Regions from separate parts of the Homo sapiens genome. Here region 1 is linked to region 2. Evidence: fine-mapped expression QTL. A gene starts in region 2. The other region holds a variant in brackets. All regions are shown on one strand. Distances are from middle to middle.

Evidence for each region. PIP is the estimated chance that this variant, and not a neighbour inherited with it, causes the effect.
Region 1: its variant is fine-mapped to the expression of CIPC in whole blood (TOPMed, PIP above 0.99).

Annotation. Positions count from the first base shown.
Region 1 is chr14:77,072,155-77,080,486 of GRCh38, forward strand. It overlaps LINC02289 (long intergenic non-protein coding RNA 2289), which reads right to left and starts at 4,037. Exons shown (of 3, transcript NR_110553.1): 1 at 3,951-4,037. RefSeq lists a silencer at 3,892-4,186. The variant G/A (reference allele first, on the strand shown) is at 4,250.
Region 2 is chr14:77,094,395-77,102,726 of GRCh38, forward strand. It overlaps CIPC (CLOCK interacting pacemaker), which reads left to right and starts at 3,864. Exons shown (of 4, transcript NM_033426.3): 1 at 3,864-3,967. LOC124903350 (a long non-coding RNA gene) reads right to left here and starts at 3,624. Exons shown (of 2, transcript XR_007064275.1): 1 at 3,482-3,624; 2 at 2,071-2,506. RefSeq lists enhancers at 3,095-3,144, 3,506-4,335, 4,475-4,634, 6,749-6,798 and a silencer at 3,325-3,474.

The sequences.
Region 1 (8,332 bases), 22 kb before region 2:
CTTCCTAGAACACTGGAGAAAATTCCACTTCCTGGGATACTGGCTTGAATTCTCCAGACTGAGTACCTCTGAGTCACCTTCTGTGGCAGCAAGGAGGAGGTGGATAGGAGGAGCTTTAGGGTTAGACAGGCCTGGGTTGGAATCCCAGCTCTGTGCCTCGCTGTCACTAGCTGTGTGTCCTGGGGCTTGTTCTTGAACTTCACTTTCCTAGATTGCCAAGTGTGGCCCATGATCCCTTGCCTTGAGAGGGTGTTGTGAAGATTAGAGAAATCACTTGCTGCTGAGTAGATGCTCAAGAAGTGAAGGCTGTTCTCGTTGGCAAGATGTGCAATTTGACCTTGGGAGGAGCCAGCCTGGAGATTTCAGCAGGTGTCAAATTCTTATCTAACCTGTTTAGAAAACACCACTACTAAGAAGGGCTAGAGGCGGGCGGATCACCTGAAGTCGAGAGTTCAAGACCAGCCTTTCCAACATGGAGAAACCCTGTCTCTACTTAAAATACAAAATTAGCAGGGCATGGTTTTGCATGCCTGTAATCCCAGCTACTCAGGAGGCTGAGGCAGGAGAATCGCTAGAACCCAGGAGGCAGAGGTTGTGGTGAGCCGAGATCGCGCCATTGCACTCCAGCCTGGGCAACAAGAGCAAAACTCCATCTCAAAAAAAGAAGGGCTGGGATTCAGATGGAGGAGAAGGCCAGCCTTCTTGCCCTGAGGCTTATGATGTTTCAGAGGGGGCTTGCTGATCTATCAGGGTTCAAAGGATCTCCAAAGGGAGTTATTTAGCTAAGATGGCAGAGCAGAAACAAGATTCCAAGACTTTGTACCCTGCCTTTCCATAGAGAAATTATTATTCAAAGAGTAGTATCCCAGCAGGATTCAAGTTCATGCCTCCAGGTATCTTTAGAGACCCTGGTACCATGAGCCAGCCTCTGTGTAGTTCAGGAAGCGCAAATTCAAGACTAGAAGTGGGGTGTCTGGATTCTAGTTCCAGCTCTACCTCCCACTGTTCTTGCAGACTCTTGAACTTGGTCCTCTTCTTGTCTCTTCAAGGTCATACCACTGAATGCTTCTCCTCTTCAGTGCCTCAGTGATGTCTCTCTTTTCCCTTCCCTGCAAAGCAGTGCTGTCCTTCTTGCCCATAGTGCTCTACTAGCAGAGACCATAATGACCACTGGTTAAGTGATTAAGAACAGGGCTGTTCATTTCTTTTTTTTCTTTTTTTGAGATGGAATTTCACTCTTGTTGCCCAGGCTGGAGTGCAATGGTGTAATCTTGGCTTACCACAACCTCCGCCTCTCAGGTTCAAGTGATTCTCCTGCCTCAGCCTCCCAAGTAGCTGGGATTACAGGCATGCACCACCACACCCAGCTAATTTTGTATTTTTTTTTTTTTTAGTAGAGACGGGGTTTCTCCATGTTGGTCAGACTGGTCTCAAATTCTTGACCTCAGGTGATCCACCTGCCTCGGCCTCCCAAAAGACTGTTCATTTCTATAGCCCCAGTCTCTAATATGGCATCTGACACATGGAAAGTGCTCACTGGTGAAAGAGTAAGTGGGACAACTCACTATAAATGGCTGTGGGGCCCATTGCTGGAAATATCCCCAGAGAGAATAGCACTGGGGCCCCTAACCATTCCAAGTAATGTTTAAGAATTATAATATGGAACTCTTTCTGTTCCAAGTTACACTGAGGCCCCAATATGACAGATATCAGTATTAGTTATCTATTGCTACATAACAGATTACCTCAAAATTTAGTAGCTTAAAACAATAATAAACATTTATTATCTCAGTTTCTCTTGATGAGGAATTGGGGAGTGGCTTAGCTGGTGTTCTGGCTTAGGGTTTGTCATGAGGTTACAGTCAAAATGTCAAGTAGGGATGCAGTCATTTGAAGGCTTGACTGGGGCCGTATGATCTGCATCTAAGATGGCACGCTCACATGGCCAGCAAGATGGTGCTGGCTACTGGCAGGAGGCCTCAGTTCCTTGCCATGTGGACCTCTCCATGGACCTCCCTGAGTAGCTTCATGACATGGCAGCTGACTTCTCCCAGAATGAGTGGTTCAAGAGAGCAGGGAGGAGGTCACAATGTCTCTTATGACTATATTAGATCCACAGGGCTGCTGTAACAAAGTACCACAAGCAAGATAACTTAACAGAAATTTACTCTTTCACAGTTCTGGGGGCCAGAAGTCTGAAACCACATTGTCAGCAGGGTCAGAACGGTGGCACATGGAAGGTGCTCATTGGTGAAACAATGAGTGGGAAAGAATAAATCATTCCTTGCCTCTTCCAACTTCTGACGGCCGCAGATGTTTCTTGGCTTGTGGCTGTATCATTCCAATCTCTGTCTCCATCTTCACACGGCCTTCTCCCTTGTGTCTGTCTACTCTTTGTCTCTCTCTCCTTATGAGAACACCAGTCATTGGATGTAGGGCCCACTCTAGTCAAGAACAACCCTTGATTACAACTGCGAAGACTATTTCCAGAAAAGGTCACATTTATAGGCCCTGGGGGTTAGGGCTGCAACATATCTTCTGGGGGACATCATTAAACACACAACAATGACCTAGCCTCAGAAGATGCATGCCATCAGCTCTGCAATAGCAAGTGGCTACAAGGGTCGGCCCTGTTCACGGAGGGAGGAGACACAATGATGTGAATACCAGGAGATGGGGACAATGAGGGGCCATTGTGGAAGCAGGCTACCACAATATCATCAGATAGCAAACTGAACATGAGACAGACTCCCATATGTAGTATTTACAAAGGAAATAATGGGGAACCAGTTGCATAGCACTCAGGGCCCTCAGCCTACCAACAATATAGAGTGTGGAGAATGGGGAGAGTTTGGAAATAGAAACTTCCAGAAAGGGCAAAGCCATGCTGTAAGCTACCCCACCAAGGAGTTAGGGGCCCTACTGCTTTCAACTCAAGCCTAGTGATGGGGGCTTCCATGCAGCCACTTGGAGCTGTGGGCCCCCATGGGACTGTGCCAGGAGGGACTGCATTAGGATGAGTGAAGGGGCTGTGTGAGTTCTTCCCATGGGCCACATGTGGATCAGATGGACCATGGCAGGAGAGAGGGCCAAGGTGGGGGTCATTTTAAGTCCTGTAGGGCCTCTGAGAAGGGCAAAGGGATGTCAGCAGAAAGAAGTTGGAAGAGGATGCTGGATTTCTAGGGGTTGAAGATGGAGTCATAGCTGTACCTGAAATGGAGGTGCAGAACAGGGAACTTCAGGAGAAAACCTTAGAGATGGGAACTTTTTTTTTTTTTTTTTTTAAGACAGGGTCTCACTCTGTTGCCCAAGCTGGAGTCCAGTGGCCCAAACTCGGCTCACAGCAACCTCTACCTCCTGGGTTCAAGCAATCCTCCTGCCTCAGCCTCCCAAGTAGCTGGGACTACAGGCGTGCAGCACCACCCCCAGATACTTTTTGTATTTTTGGTAGAGATGAGGTTTAGCCATGTTGCTCGGGCTGGTCTAGTACTCCTGGGCTCCAGTGATCTGCCCGCCTCCGCCTTCCAAAGTGCTGGGATTATAGGCGTGAGCCACCAAGCCTGGCTGAGATGGGAACTTCTGAAGAACACAGGGAACCCTCCAGAAAGAGCTTTCACCATCTGCCACACCCAGAGAGCTGGCAATCATACAGTCAAGTAAAAACTGCCCTATTCCCCTGCTCCCCATCCGCTTCCCTGCATCCTCACCCACCACCTCCACTTAGACTCTGAAAGCAACCAGCAAGTGGGGAGAGGGGTATTCGGGAGAGAATAGACAAAAGCCACCATGCCCAGTCCCTGGCAGCTGGCAGCCCCCAACTAAGGCCTTAACTAGGGCAGGAGGAAGAAGATTTCTCTTTGAAGAAAAATGCAAGAGTCATTTAATATCTTTGGGTGGCTGCTTTAAATCTCTAAGTCGATACTGGATTTCGTGACATAAAATGTACATACCTAAGCATGACCAGAAGAGCCTCGGGGTCAGCTGAGCTTTCAGCCAGGGGAAGGGGAAATGCTTCCCTTGCTTTAGCTCAAATGCACAGTGAGAGCCAAAGCAAATTGAGTTACATGTTGGTTCCACCCCACATTCAAGGGATTGGTTTCACCGAATCCCCGCCTCCACAGGGAATTGGGTCTTATATTTCTTACCCCCAACCCTCCCCGCCATGGCAGAGCCACAAGGAGGTTCCTGAAGAAAATCCCTTCTCGGCTTTTGTGCAGAATTGAAGAATGTTTACTATGTTTTCCTTCCT[G/A]TCTCTCTGGAAATGACGCAAAGAATAACAACAACAAAAAAGAACTCCTTGTCCCGTGCAAAACACCCGCCCCTCCCCCGCCCCTGACCTCCTAACTCTTCACCCTGTGTTGGCCTGACTTCACCCTGGGATGGGGAAACTTCCTGGGAGGATATAGCTGACCTGGGAACAAAACTTGTTTTTTTGAAAGCTTTGTGCAACGTCAACTAAGTTGGGGGAGGGGTCTGGGCAAGGAAAGAAGAAAGCAAAGGGGGGCAGGGTGGGAACAGTTCTGCTAAACCAAACAATTCCCCAGGGATGATGGAGCTGTGGTGACCTGATAAGTCCTTTAAATGTCTTATTAATTACTGGGGGAAAAATTGGCTACTTCTGAGTCTCCCCTCTCTCACTGTCCTTGCACAAGCTTGGGACTAGCTCTGTCCTTTTTTAAGAGTCAGTCTTGGGCCGGGCATAGTGGCTCACTCCTGTAATCCCAGCACTTTGGGAGGCTAAGGCAGGAGGATCCCTTGAGGCCAGGAGCTTGAGACCAGCCTGGGCAACATAGCGAGACCTCATCCCTACAAATAATTTTTAAAAATTAGCTTGGAGTGTTGGTGTGTGTCTGTGGTCCCTGCTACTCAGGAGACTGAGGCAGGAGGATTACTTAAGCCCAGGCAGTGGAGGCAGCAGTGAGCTGTGATTGCACTATTGCACTCCAGCCTGGGTGATAGAGCAAGAACCTATCTCAAAAAAAAAAAAAAAAAAAAAAGAGTCCAGCTTTTTAAAGAAGGGTGCCCCTTGGTGGAAGACAACAGGACAAGGCAGGAGCTGGGGCTGCGGAGAGTCCGGGGTCTGCAGAGCATGGGGCTGCCATCAGAGACCCACCAGGCAGGTTCCTGCTCCTAGCAAGGACCCGGCTGAGCAGAGATGAGGGTGTGGAGGTGAACCTGGAAAACATGCAGAGGATTCTAGACACATTCCACAGTCAGAGCCTCTGGAAAGCCCACCTTCTCCATCACAGAGGCTTTGGGGAATAGACATCCTGTTTCTCTGTATTATTACAGCACAAAGCATTTATCATGCTGACAATGACAGTGACATTTCAGGACCTAAACAAGCTTAGTTGTTCACAGCTTACAGGAGAGAAGGCTCCTAACACTCTTTATTTATTTATTTATTTGTTTGTTTATTTATTTTGTTTTTGTTTTTTTTTGTTTTGAGACAGAGTTTCGCTCTGTCGCCCAGGCAGACAGAGTGCAGTGGCAAGATCTCGGCTCACTGCAAGTTCCGCTTCCAGGGTTCACGCCATTCTCCTGCCCAGCCTCCCGAGTAGCTGGGACTACAGGTGCCTGCCACGGCGCCTGGCTAATTTTTTGTATTTTTAGTAGAGGCGGGGTTTCACCGTGTTAGCCAGGATAGTCTCCATCTCCTGACATCTTGATCCACCCACCTCGGCCTCCCAGAGTGCTGGGATTACAGGCGTGAGCCACCGCGCCCGGCCTATTTATTTGTTTTTTGAGACAGAGCCTTGCTCTGTCATCCAGGCTGGAGTGCAATGGTGTGATCTCGGCTTATTGCAACTTCCACCTCCCAGGTTCAAGCAATTCTCCTGCCTCAGCCTCCCGAGTAGTCGGGACTACAGGTGTGCACTACCACAGCAGGCTATTTTTTTTTTTTTTTTTTAGTAGAGACAGAGTTTCTCCACGTTGGCCAGGCTGGTCTCGAACTCCTGACCTCAGACAATCTGCCTGCCACATGATTAGGTCCTGAGGGCTCTCCCCTCATGAATGGGATTAAGACTTTTATAAAAGAGGCCTGAAGGAGCTTGTTGACCCCTTCTGCCATGCAAGGACACAGAGGAGGCACCATGTATGAGGAATGAGCCCTCACAAGACACTGAATCTGCTGGCGCCTTGACCTTGGACTTTCCAGTCTCCAGAACTGTGAATGATAAATTTCCATTGTTTATAAATTACCCAGTCTAAGGTATTTTGTTATAGCAGCCAAAACCATCTACAGAGCACTAATGACAGTTTGGGCTGGATTATTCTTCGTTGTCGGGGCTGCCCTGTACATTGTAGGATGTTTTGGAATATCCCTGGCCTCTATCCACAAGATGCCAGTAGCGCCTCCCCCAACTCCATGACAAAACTGTCCCTTGGGGGCAAAATTACCCCTGGTTGAGAATCACGGCCAAGTAGCAGTCCCCATTCAGTGACCAGACAGCTAAGGAGATCCAGAGTGTAGTGCTGGGCCACACAGATGCTAAGGGAATTTATACTTCAGGAAAAAAAAAAAAAAGGCCAAGTCTATGTGGCCTTCGCATCAGTTATTACTCTCTCGGTTGCACTAAGTGACAGAAAATTCACCTCTAAATGACTTTAAATTGGGATGCTGTTTCATATAACTAAGCAGACCAGGGATTAGGCATTGTGCTGGTTCAGGCCAAGCTTGATCCAGGGATTCAAACAATATCACCAAGATTTGGCTTTATCTTTATCCCCGATGCTGCTCTTCTCCATAGCGTTTTCTTGTTGGGATAAGATGGCTGCCAGCAATCCAGTCCCACCTCTTCCTATGCCTGAGACTTGTGAGGAAAAAACATGAAGTGCTTTTCTTTTTGCAGTCCCAGCAAAAGTCTCATTCCACTGAACTGGCTCTGACTTGAACATGAATCCATCATCAAGCAAGACACCATGGCTGGGGAATGTGATGGCCTAAGTGGCCAGGTTGTAGTCACATAACCACTTCTGGATCTGGGAGTGGAGTCAACTCTGTCTGTGGGACATCAAGAATGGGGAAGTGGGGTTCCCAAGAGGAAAGTAGCATACTACCACTGGGAGACAGGTGAAAGGATTCTTGATGACAAAAAGCAATACATAGCTACCACAGTCTTTTTTTTCTTTTCTTTTCTTTTCTTTTTTTTTTTTTTTTTTGAGGCAGGGTCTCACTCTGTCGCTCAGGCTGGAGTGTAGTGTGAGATCTCAGCTCACTGCAGCCTCAACCTCCTAGGCTCAAAGAATCCTCCCTCTTCAGCCTCCAGAGTAGCTAGAATTATAAGTGTGCACCACCACACCCAGCTACTATTTGTATTTTTAGTAGAGATGGAGTCTCACCATGTTGCCCAGGCTGATCGCGAACTCCTGAGTTCAAGTGATCTGCCCACCTCGGCCTCCTGAAGTGCTAGGATTATAGGTGTGAGCCACCACACCTGACCTACCAAAGTCTTTATACCAAAAAGAAGCTCACTCTTAAATTGATTAAGGTGAGAGCTAAAAGTTTAAAGAAGACTCTGCCGAGTGGTAGTATAATACCTGTGCCATGATTGTCCAAATCAACCTCCAGGTGACAAACAAGAACTCTTTCAGGTATCTCTAAGATAAACTAGCATCTGAGATGGTTCATTCAGATGGATCTCTAAAATGGAGACTGCCAGAGTTTTACCAAGATTTTTCCTCCCATTTTTTCATAGTAACATATATGTAGTTGGGTCCATAGTTGCTCAGCTGGAGATAGCATTTCCCAATTTTCCTTGCAGTTCAAATCGTAGTACATGTGAGTCCCAGCCCTGGAGTGAGTAGTCACTTGGGGGACACCTTGCAGTTAGGTGTGACCACATGACTAAGTTTGCACTATATGGGCAGAAGAGATGATTACACCTAGGCCTTAAGATAGTGGGAATGCGGCAGGCTGAGACATGAGAATTGCTTGAACCCAGGAGGCGGAGGTTGCAGTGAGCTGAGATCATGCCACTGCACTCCAGCCTGGGTGATAGAGTGAGACTCAAAAAAAAAAAAAAAGATAGTGGGCATGTCTCATCCTTACTCTTTCCCCTTCCCTTGAACCAGAACATGATCTTGCCTGAGACCTAGCTTTGCCATGCTAGTAAAAATGATGCCCTAAGAGATGACAGGAAAATGCAAAGAACCTGGATCCCTGAATGACCTTGTGGAGCAGAGTATCCTGACAATCTGCAATGAATACCTCAAGTGAGAAAGAAATAAATTTGCCTTTTCTGAGAGACTAAATGTTGCATTACATCTATTCTAAGATCCATGTTTTTAATGTATTCTAATATCTTTGAAATCCATGGCACTGTTGGCC
Region 2 (8,332 bases):
TTCAAGCAATTCTCCTGCCTCAGCCCCCTGAGTGGCTGGGATTAAAGGCGCATGCCACCATGCCCAGCTAATTTTTGTATTTTCAGTAGAGACGGGGTTTCACCACGTTGGCCAGGCTGGTCTTGAACTCCTGACCTAGTGATCTGCCCGCCTTGGCCTCCCAAAGTGCTGGGATTACAGGTGTGAGCCACTGCGCCTGGCCCACTTTTAAATATTTTTAAATGACTTTAATTTTAAATTCAACAATTATTAAACAATCGTTTATAAATATTTTAAATTGTATAACATAATACACTTAAAATATCTTCAAATAAAACTCGGCCCATGGCTGACTCTTCATGGTATCCTAGGCAGGGTTAAAAACTCAAATCCTCACACGGATAGGCAGGTTACAATTTCAAGAAGTAGATGGGAAAAAAAAAGAAACATTCGCAAGTCCCTAAATGTAGGATTTAAGGGCGCATGTCTCCCCCTGCTGGTTGTGGTGGTAGGAAACCGAACCTAGACCACAATGGTACTGGGGAGAACTTGAATTGGAAAGGACCCTACAGCAAGAAGAATAGGTGCTTCAGAACCCACTATCCATCACAGGGTCCTTACCCCATCCATCATAGGGTCCTTACTCCAACCAAGAGTAAAGAGAGTAAAGTGAGTGAAGGTTAAAGAATTCGTGGCACCAGTAAACTATCAATAGATGCTGATTTACAAATCTTGGTAAATTAATAGGAAAGGAAGAAAAACGTTTACGGTGGTTTAGCTACATAAAAATATTCACTATCAATCTTCATGAATTGCTTATTCTGTATATCTAATTATATAGAATCATAGCATAAAATAATCATAAAAATTATGCCTATCATTAGTCTTGATTCATTTGGTTCCATTACAATACTTGTCTGAAGCTTAAGTTATTGGTACAGCATGGCTGTCTGCTCAAGATGTAGGTAAAGTCAAGGAAGTTTGGTTTATTTGCCCCTTCGGAGGACTAAGAGGGCCTCATGCTTTCGCATATTTCACTGATTCTTTTTTGCTTGGTATGCATTATCCCCTCACCTGCTTCCATTATTGCAAACCCAACTTTCAAGCTGTCTTTAAAGCTTTACCTGCTGGTCTCTTTCTACTCCAACAACCGAAAAAGAAAGTTTTTTTTTTCTCCCTTAATGTTATTGTTTTGTTCAGAATCTTTTGGTAGTTATCCCATTCTCTTTCATATTGCTTATTACATCATGTCTTATTTCCCATATCAGATTGTAAGTTATTTGAAGGCAGACTTTTATTCTTTTTTTTTTTGAATTTTATTTTTGTTTTGTTTTTTATTTAAGTTCAGGGATACGTGTGCAGATTCGTTACATAGGTAAACTTGTGTCATGGCGGTTTGTTGTACAGATGATTTCGTTACCCAGGTATTAAGCCTAGTATCCATGCTGCTGTTTTTTAAATTTTTTATTTCCATAGGTTTTTGGGGAACAGGTGGCATTTTGGTTATATGAGTAAGTTCTTAAGCGGTGATTTGTGAGATTTTGGTGAACCCATCACCTGAGCAGTATACACTGCACCCAATTTGTAGTCTTTTATCCCTCACCCCCTTCCCACCCTTTCCCCTTGAGTCCCCAAAGTCCACTGTATCATCCTTATGCCTTTACATCCTCATAGCTTAACTCCCACTTATGAGTGAGAACATACGATGTTTGGGTTTCTATTCCTTAGTTACTTCACTTAGAATATAAGTCTCCAATCTCATCCAGGTTGCTGCAAATGCCATTAATTCATTCCTCTCATAGTTTATTTATTTGCCCCTTCGGAAAACTAAGATAGGACCACACCTCATGCTTTTGCTTATTTCATTGATTCTTTTTTTGCTTTGTGTGCGTCGTACTCTCACCCACTTCCATTACTGCAAATCCAACTTTTAGCTATCCTTAAAGATTTACCTACTGATCTCTTCCTACTCCAACAACCAAAAAAAAACAAAGTTTTTTTTTCTCCCTTTATTTTATTAATTAGGTTTTGTTCACAATCTTCTGGTACTTATCCCATTCTCTTTCATATTATTTATTACAGCGCGTCTTATTTCCCATATCAGATTTTAAGTTATCTGAAGGCAGATTGTTTTATTCCACTTCAAAAGAAGGCAATATATTAATAGCTTCATGGATAAAAGCCACGGTTTTCGTTTGTTTGTTTTGGTGAGACGGAGATTTGTTGCCCAGGCTGGAGTGCAATGGCACGATCTCGGCTCACCGCATCCTCCGCCTCCCAGGTTCAAGCGATTATCCTGCCTCAGCCTCCCGAGGATTACAGGCATGTGCCACCACGCCCAGCTAATTTTGTATTTTTAGTAGAGACGGGGTTTCACCGTGTTGCCCAGGCTGATCTTGAACTCCTGACCTCAGGTGATCCGCCCGCCTCGGCCTCCCAAAGTGCTGGGATTACAGGCGTCAGCCACTGTGCCTGGCCAAAGCCATGGGTTTTTAGTTGAGTCCTAATGGGCAAAAACGCCACACAACTGGAAAAAAATACCACCTGCGTCATAAACTTGTAAGGAATCATAAAAGGATGCATATAAAGCGGCCCGGCTCCTAATTACTTGGTAATTGTTAACTATTGCTTTCACTCTGTCCCCAAAACAAAAGCCTTACATGGTGTAGGCATATTACTTGTTGGTAAAGCTGACTACTAACAAGTACACCCATACCCAGTAATACATTAGAATTACCTGTGTCTAGAGGACTAACGTGATTAACCACGACCTAGCAGCACTTACAAAGGCCTGGATGACCAGTATAAAACAATTCCCCACTATCTAAATCAGCACTGTCCAATATAACTTTCTGCGATGCTGGGAATGGGCTATATATAATCTGCACTGTCCAATAAAGAGGTCACTGAGCTCCTGAAATGTGGCTAGTACAACTGAGAAACTTATCCAGTCGTTAGTGACCATCTTACTGGACAGCTCAGCTCTTGAATCTGCCTCGACCCGTCAACTCTTTAAACTCGCCCATGTCCTCTTTTTCACTAGCGAAATAATTCTTTTTCTAAGTAACCTTCACTGATTCAAGGCATCAGAACGTCAACTGATCCCAAGCCCTTTTTTTCTTTAGCTGTTACACACGTGTGTTCACCGTGAACCTTCACCAAGAAACAGCATCCATATAAAACCCATAGCACATGACAAAGTCAGTCAAACATCAAAGGTCATGAAATCATCTACTTAAAATAACTCATCGCGCCTCGACCTCGTGAAGCACGGTCTCGAGGGTGGACGGGAACAAAAAACAAACAGGGCGACAGGCGTAGAGAAAATGCGAGGAGCACGCGGGGAGGTCTGGCACCCCTGTCACGGCGACTCCAGGCTGAGGCCGCCCGCACGCCCGCTCTCCCACGCCGGGCACTGTCGCTCCCGGCACGCGCACAGGCCGGACACGACTCGCCCCGGCCCCCACCCCCAACGGCGGCACGGCGGCACGGCGGCACGCACCAAGACAGTGCGAGAGTCGCTCCTCTCTCTGTATCGACTCCAAGCCGGCCCCACCCCCGGCTCCTCTGAACCCCGCCTGGAAACCTTGCCCAAGCCGCTCATTGCTCAAGGCCCCCGTACAAAATGGCGGCGAGGCCTGAGGAACCAACCATAGAGACGCCCGCCGGCCGCGGACAGAGCGTAGGCCTCTGAGCGCTGGCCCCGCCCCGCGCCGGCCTGGTCTTCCGGCGGGGGCGGGGAAAGGGCGCATTTCCAAGGGCCCTTCTAGGAGAACAGCGTGCGGTCTCCATGGTGCCGGGTCATCCGAGTCGGGTCACGTGGCTGGCGAAAGCCGTCGCGGAGGCGTGGGGAGGAGAAATGGGCGGGAGGCTGTGGGGATAGCGAGACACCCAGCGACGACGAGGTTGTCATGGTGCCGCGGGGCCGTGCTCGCGCATGCGCCACCTGACCCACAGGCCGGTCGTGGAGCTGCGACCCCGGCCCTAGGTGAGAAAGGGAGGGCTCGGTCCGGGAGGAGGGGAGCAGGGATGACGGCGGGAGAGGGATTGGGCGAGGAGCGTGGGGAAAGGAGGTGGAAGTAGGGGAGAGAGGAAGAGGAGCGAGTAGGCAAGAGGGGCAAACCGGGACTTTCGGAGGACGGAGAGCCAAATGGTGGGAGCAGGGCTTTGGTTTGCTGTGAGGGGCGTGGGAGAGGGAATCGCGGGTGAGGAGGGGGCTGCGTGTGGGGAGGAGGCTTGTGTGAGGGGCAGGTGGGCCCTGGTCTAGCCCTGGGCGCAACCGCCAGCCGGCTGGGCGGGGAGAGAGCTTGGAGTCCAGCCCGGCTGGGAGCTGAGGGCCAAGCAATGGGCAGGTGAGTGGGCGCCAGAACTAGTAACTGGGCGAGGGTCCTGGGCTTCCGGTTTGAGGTCGGGGGTGGTACCCTGTTCTGGCTCCAGGGCACAGGTGTGCTGCCTTTTCCAGAGACCTGCCGTCACCCTCGTTGCTGGTTGTTTCCCCTGAGTGGCCAGCTTGCCAGGCTTGGTGTCGGGGGTAGTGTTTCTGGGGAGAAGGTGGGCAGTGCCAAGTAAGGAGTTAAGTGGTTAGTGGGTGGGTTCGGGGGAGCTCTGATCCCGGCCCAGGTCACAGGCTGGAGCTAGGCTCCCTGTTATTGCTCAAGTCCTGGCAGTATGCATTGCCTGGGCGTTTGCCCTGGAAGGCTGGTGGTATGCCAGTCACAGCACAGTACTAGGGTCTGCCCAGTTTTGCCCTGCTGAGCTGGCAGGCTGGTGGATGCCTGGAGGGTGCACATGCTGCCTGGCACAGATGCAACGTGGGCTGGTGCGAATGGGTAGGTGGGCACTGTTACTGTGAACTAATTGCAGCAGGGGATCGGAGAAAGTTCTCTAAGCTCATCTCCCCTTTGAAAGGTGAAAATAGAGCCAAACTGGTCTAAAACATAGGAAATTGTATGGAATTGGGGTTCAGGATCTTTGACACGAATTTTCAGCCAAGTTGGAGAAATGGAATGAATGTGGAAGGGAAGATGAATATTAGACATTTAGGTAGACAGGGTTTTTCCACTGTTAAGATACCCAGACATTCTCCCAGAATGGTATCCCTGAATATGCAGGCCAAAAGAAAATGACTTCGGAGAAAAGCTAGTAATGTATTTATAATTCTAACGGGGATTACTCAAGGTTTTCTTTCTGTGACCTTATCACTTTATTGTATTTAAGCCTCTGGTTGGGCTTTTACCTCACACTTCTGTCCAGGCACACATGTTATACACGTGACACATTTTAAAGGGAACTTGAGCTTCCAGGAATGTTGCCAAGTGTCTATAAAAGGAGAGATCTGAAAGCAGCATTTCAGATCCTTTTCTTGTAACCCTGGATCTCCTTTTTAATCATAAGGACAAATCTTCACAAAGATTGTTTGTGGATTAGATCAACCCTTAATTTGGATGGTGGATTTGTCCCTGACGTTTCAACTTAGAATAAGGGGTAGATCAAATATCTGTTTCCTGCAGGGGACCAGACGTGGAGGTTAGATCTTAAGGTGACCGTGGTGTTTGGAAATGCAGAATCTTGACCTTCAAGCTGTTCAGGTATTTCTGTGACTGCTAAGCTACTAGAGCTGTCAGAGACTCAGCAGGTCAGAGATTTGTTGGAATTTATTACTCTATTGAATGCCTCATGTTAATTGTTGGGGGCTGAGGTTGCAAAGATGAAAAAAACAACTCGAGGTTGAGGAGACAAATAATTAGACTAATGTCAGAAGTGCAAAAAGAGTAGTAAGAGCTAAATGCTTTGGAGCACTTGCTAGGATTTTGAATTTTGTCCCCTTATATAAACTTATATATTTATTGATTCACTTTCTTTCTTTCTTTTTTTTTTTTTTTTTTTGAGACGGAGTCTCACTCTGTCACCCAGGCTGGAGTGCAGAGGCACAATTTCGGCTTACTACAATCTCTGCCTCCCAGGTTCAAGCTATTCTCGTGCCTCAGCCTCTTGAGAAGCTGGGATTACAGGCACACATCCCCAAGCCCAGCTAATTTTTGTGTTTTTAGTAGAGACAGGGTTTCACCATATTGGCCAGGCTGGTCTCCAACTCCTGACCTCAGGTGATCTGCCCGCCTGTGCCTCAAAGTGCTGCTGGGATTATAGACGTGAGCCACCTTGCCTGGCTCTGATTCTCTCTTTTCTTTTCTTTTCTCTTCTTTTTTTTTTTTCTTTTGACGGAGTCTCACTCTTCACCCAGGCTGGAGGGCAGTGGCAACATCTCGGCTCACTGCAACTCCACATCCCAGGTTCAAGGGATTCTCCTGCCTCACCCTCCCAAGTAGCTAGGATTACAGATGTGTGCCACCACACCCAGCTAATTTTTGTATTTTTAGTAGAGACAGGGTTTCACCATGTTGGCCAGGCTGGTCTCGAACTCCTGACCTCAGGTGATCCATCCACCTCTGCCTCCCAAAGTGCTGGGATTATAGGTGTGAGCCACCACACCCGGCCTGATTCACTTTCCATTATGAGTTTTAGTGTGTACTATCCTCTCTGGGAAACTTTTGGACAATGTGTTACATATACATGCATAAGAGGCCCAATTAGGGTAAATTCTGACAGTTTTGGAGCCTAAATTAGCCCTTTTAATGCAGAATAAGGTACATGTGTTTGTAAAGCAGCGTGAGTGATTTCCAGTCTATGCCAGGAAGCAGGAAGCAGAAAGAACACAGTGGGTAAGAGCTTAGTAATCCATTTTCAACTCCTAGTCAGTGTGAGCATGTAACTTTATTGTAAACTAATATCTAAGAGGAAAAAAATCAAGCAACTTCCCGAGGTTTTCAGACTTTGCCTTGCAAATTTTGGGGTTGAGAGCACCAGTAGTAAGTGAGGCTTTATGTGGTGCTATGTGTGAGTGGGTCCCTCAGCCACTCCCAGGAGGGCAGTGCTGCTACTCCTCCGAAAGAGTAAAGTTTGGGGAGGGATGTAGCCCTTTGTTCTACATCCCATGTGAGCCTCCCTGGCTGCAATGCTAAGGCTTTTTGCTGCTTAAGAGAACTTTACTGAAGATAGAGGCTTTCATATTTTTAATCATTTTCATATGAAAAATAGTCAATTTGCCATCCTAAAGTCGATTTTACATTCTTTATTTCCAACTGCCACCAACTCCCCAGGATCTAAATTTAGCATCTGTTCTCTTTTTAACTTACCTCTGTGATACCTTTCCTCACCTACCATAAGGGTCATAGTTGACCCTCCCATAACAAAAGACAGGTTAACAAGAGAAAAACATAACAGTTTTATTTAATCAAAGTTTTTTTTATGACACAGGAGTCTTCAGAAGTGAAGCCTCCCAAACTCAGGGAAAACTGTCTATTTTTATGGTTAGGTTTGATGAAGAATGGACGGCTGTGTAGAAATATGATTGGACAAAAAGGGTATGATCTGGCTGGGCATGGTGGCTTATGCCTGTAATCCCAGCACTTTGGGAGGCTGAGGTGGGAGGATTGCTTGAGTCCAGGAGGTTGAGACCAGCTTGGGCAACATAGCAAGACCCAGTCTCTACAAAAAATTTAAAAATTAGCTGGGTGTGGTGGTATGCGCCTGGAGTCCCAGCTACTCAGGAGGCTAGGGCAGGAGGATCACTTTAGCCCAGGAGGTCGAGTCTGCAGTTAGCTGTGATCGTGCCACTGCGCTCTAGCCTGAGCAACAGCGTGTGATCCATCTATAAATAAAAAACAAAACAAAAACAAAAAGAGTATGATCTAATAGTAATGGACTGAGGTGGGAAACCCAGCAAGGTCTGTCTGTCCAGAATTATTCTTGACCTCTGTGTAGCATTCCTTCCTCTCTGTTATAGGGCAGGACCCATTCTGGAATGAGGGTTTTATGATCTGCTATCGGACAAGACAGGTCAGATAATTTCTTTATGGCCAGGAAGTCGAGGCTGCAGTGAGCTGTGTTTGTGGCCTTGCACTCCAGCCTGGGCGACAGAGCAAGACACAGTCTCAGAAAAAAACAAAAAGCAACAACAAAGTGCTCATTATGCTAAAGTGCCATACTTGGGAGTATTATTTTCTGAGCCTCAAAAACCGATTGTCAGTGTTTCAGTATTTTGACTCCATGATCAATTATCTCTTATCCTACAAATTCTCAATAAGCCAGAATAAATTCCTGTGTATTTTCTGTAGCTCTATTGACTACACTTTAATAATAATAGCAAGACCTTTTTCATTGTTTTGCCGCAAGGATTGTAGAAGACTAAATTGGGATGCATTATCTAAAGTACCTGTAAAATAATCCATGTTTAGTAAGATAATGTGAAACTTCAAGAACCTAAGAACCTAAGTAAGGTTCTTAATTAGTTGCA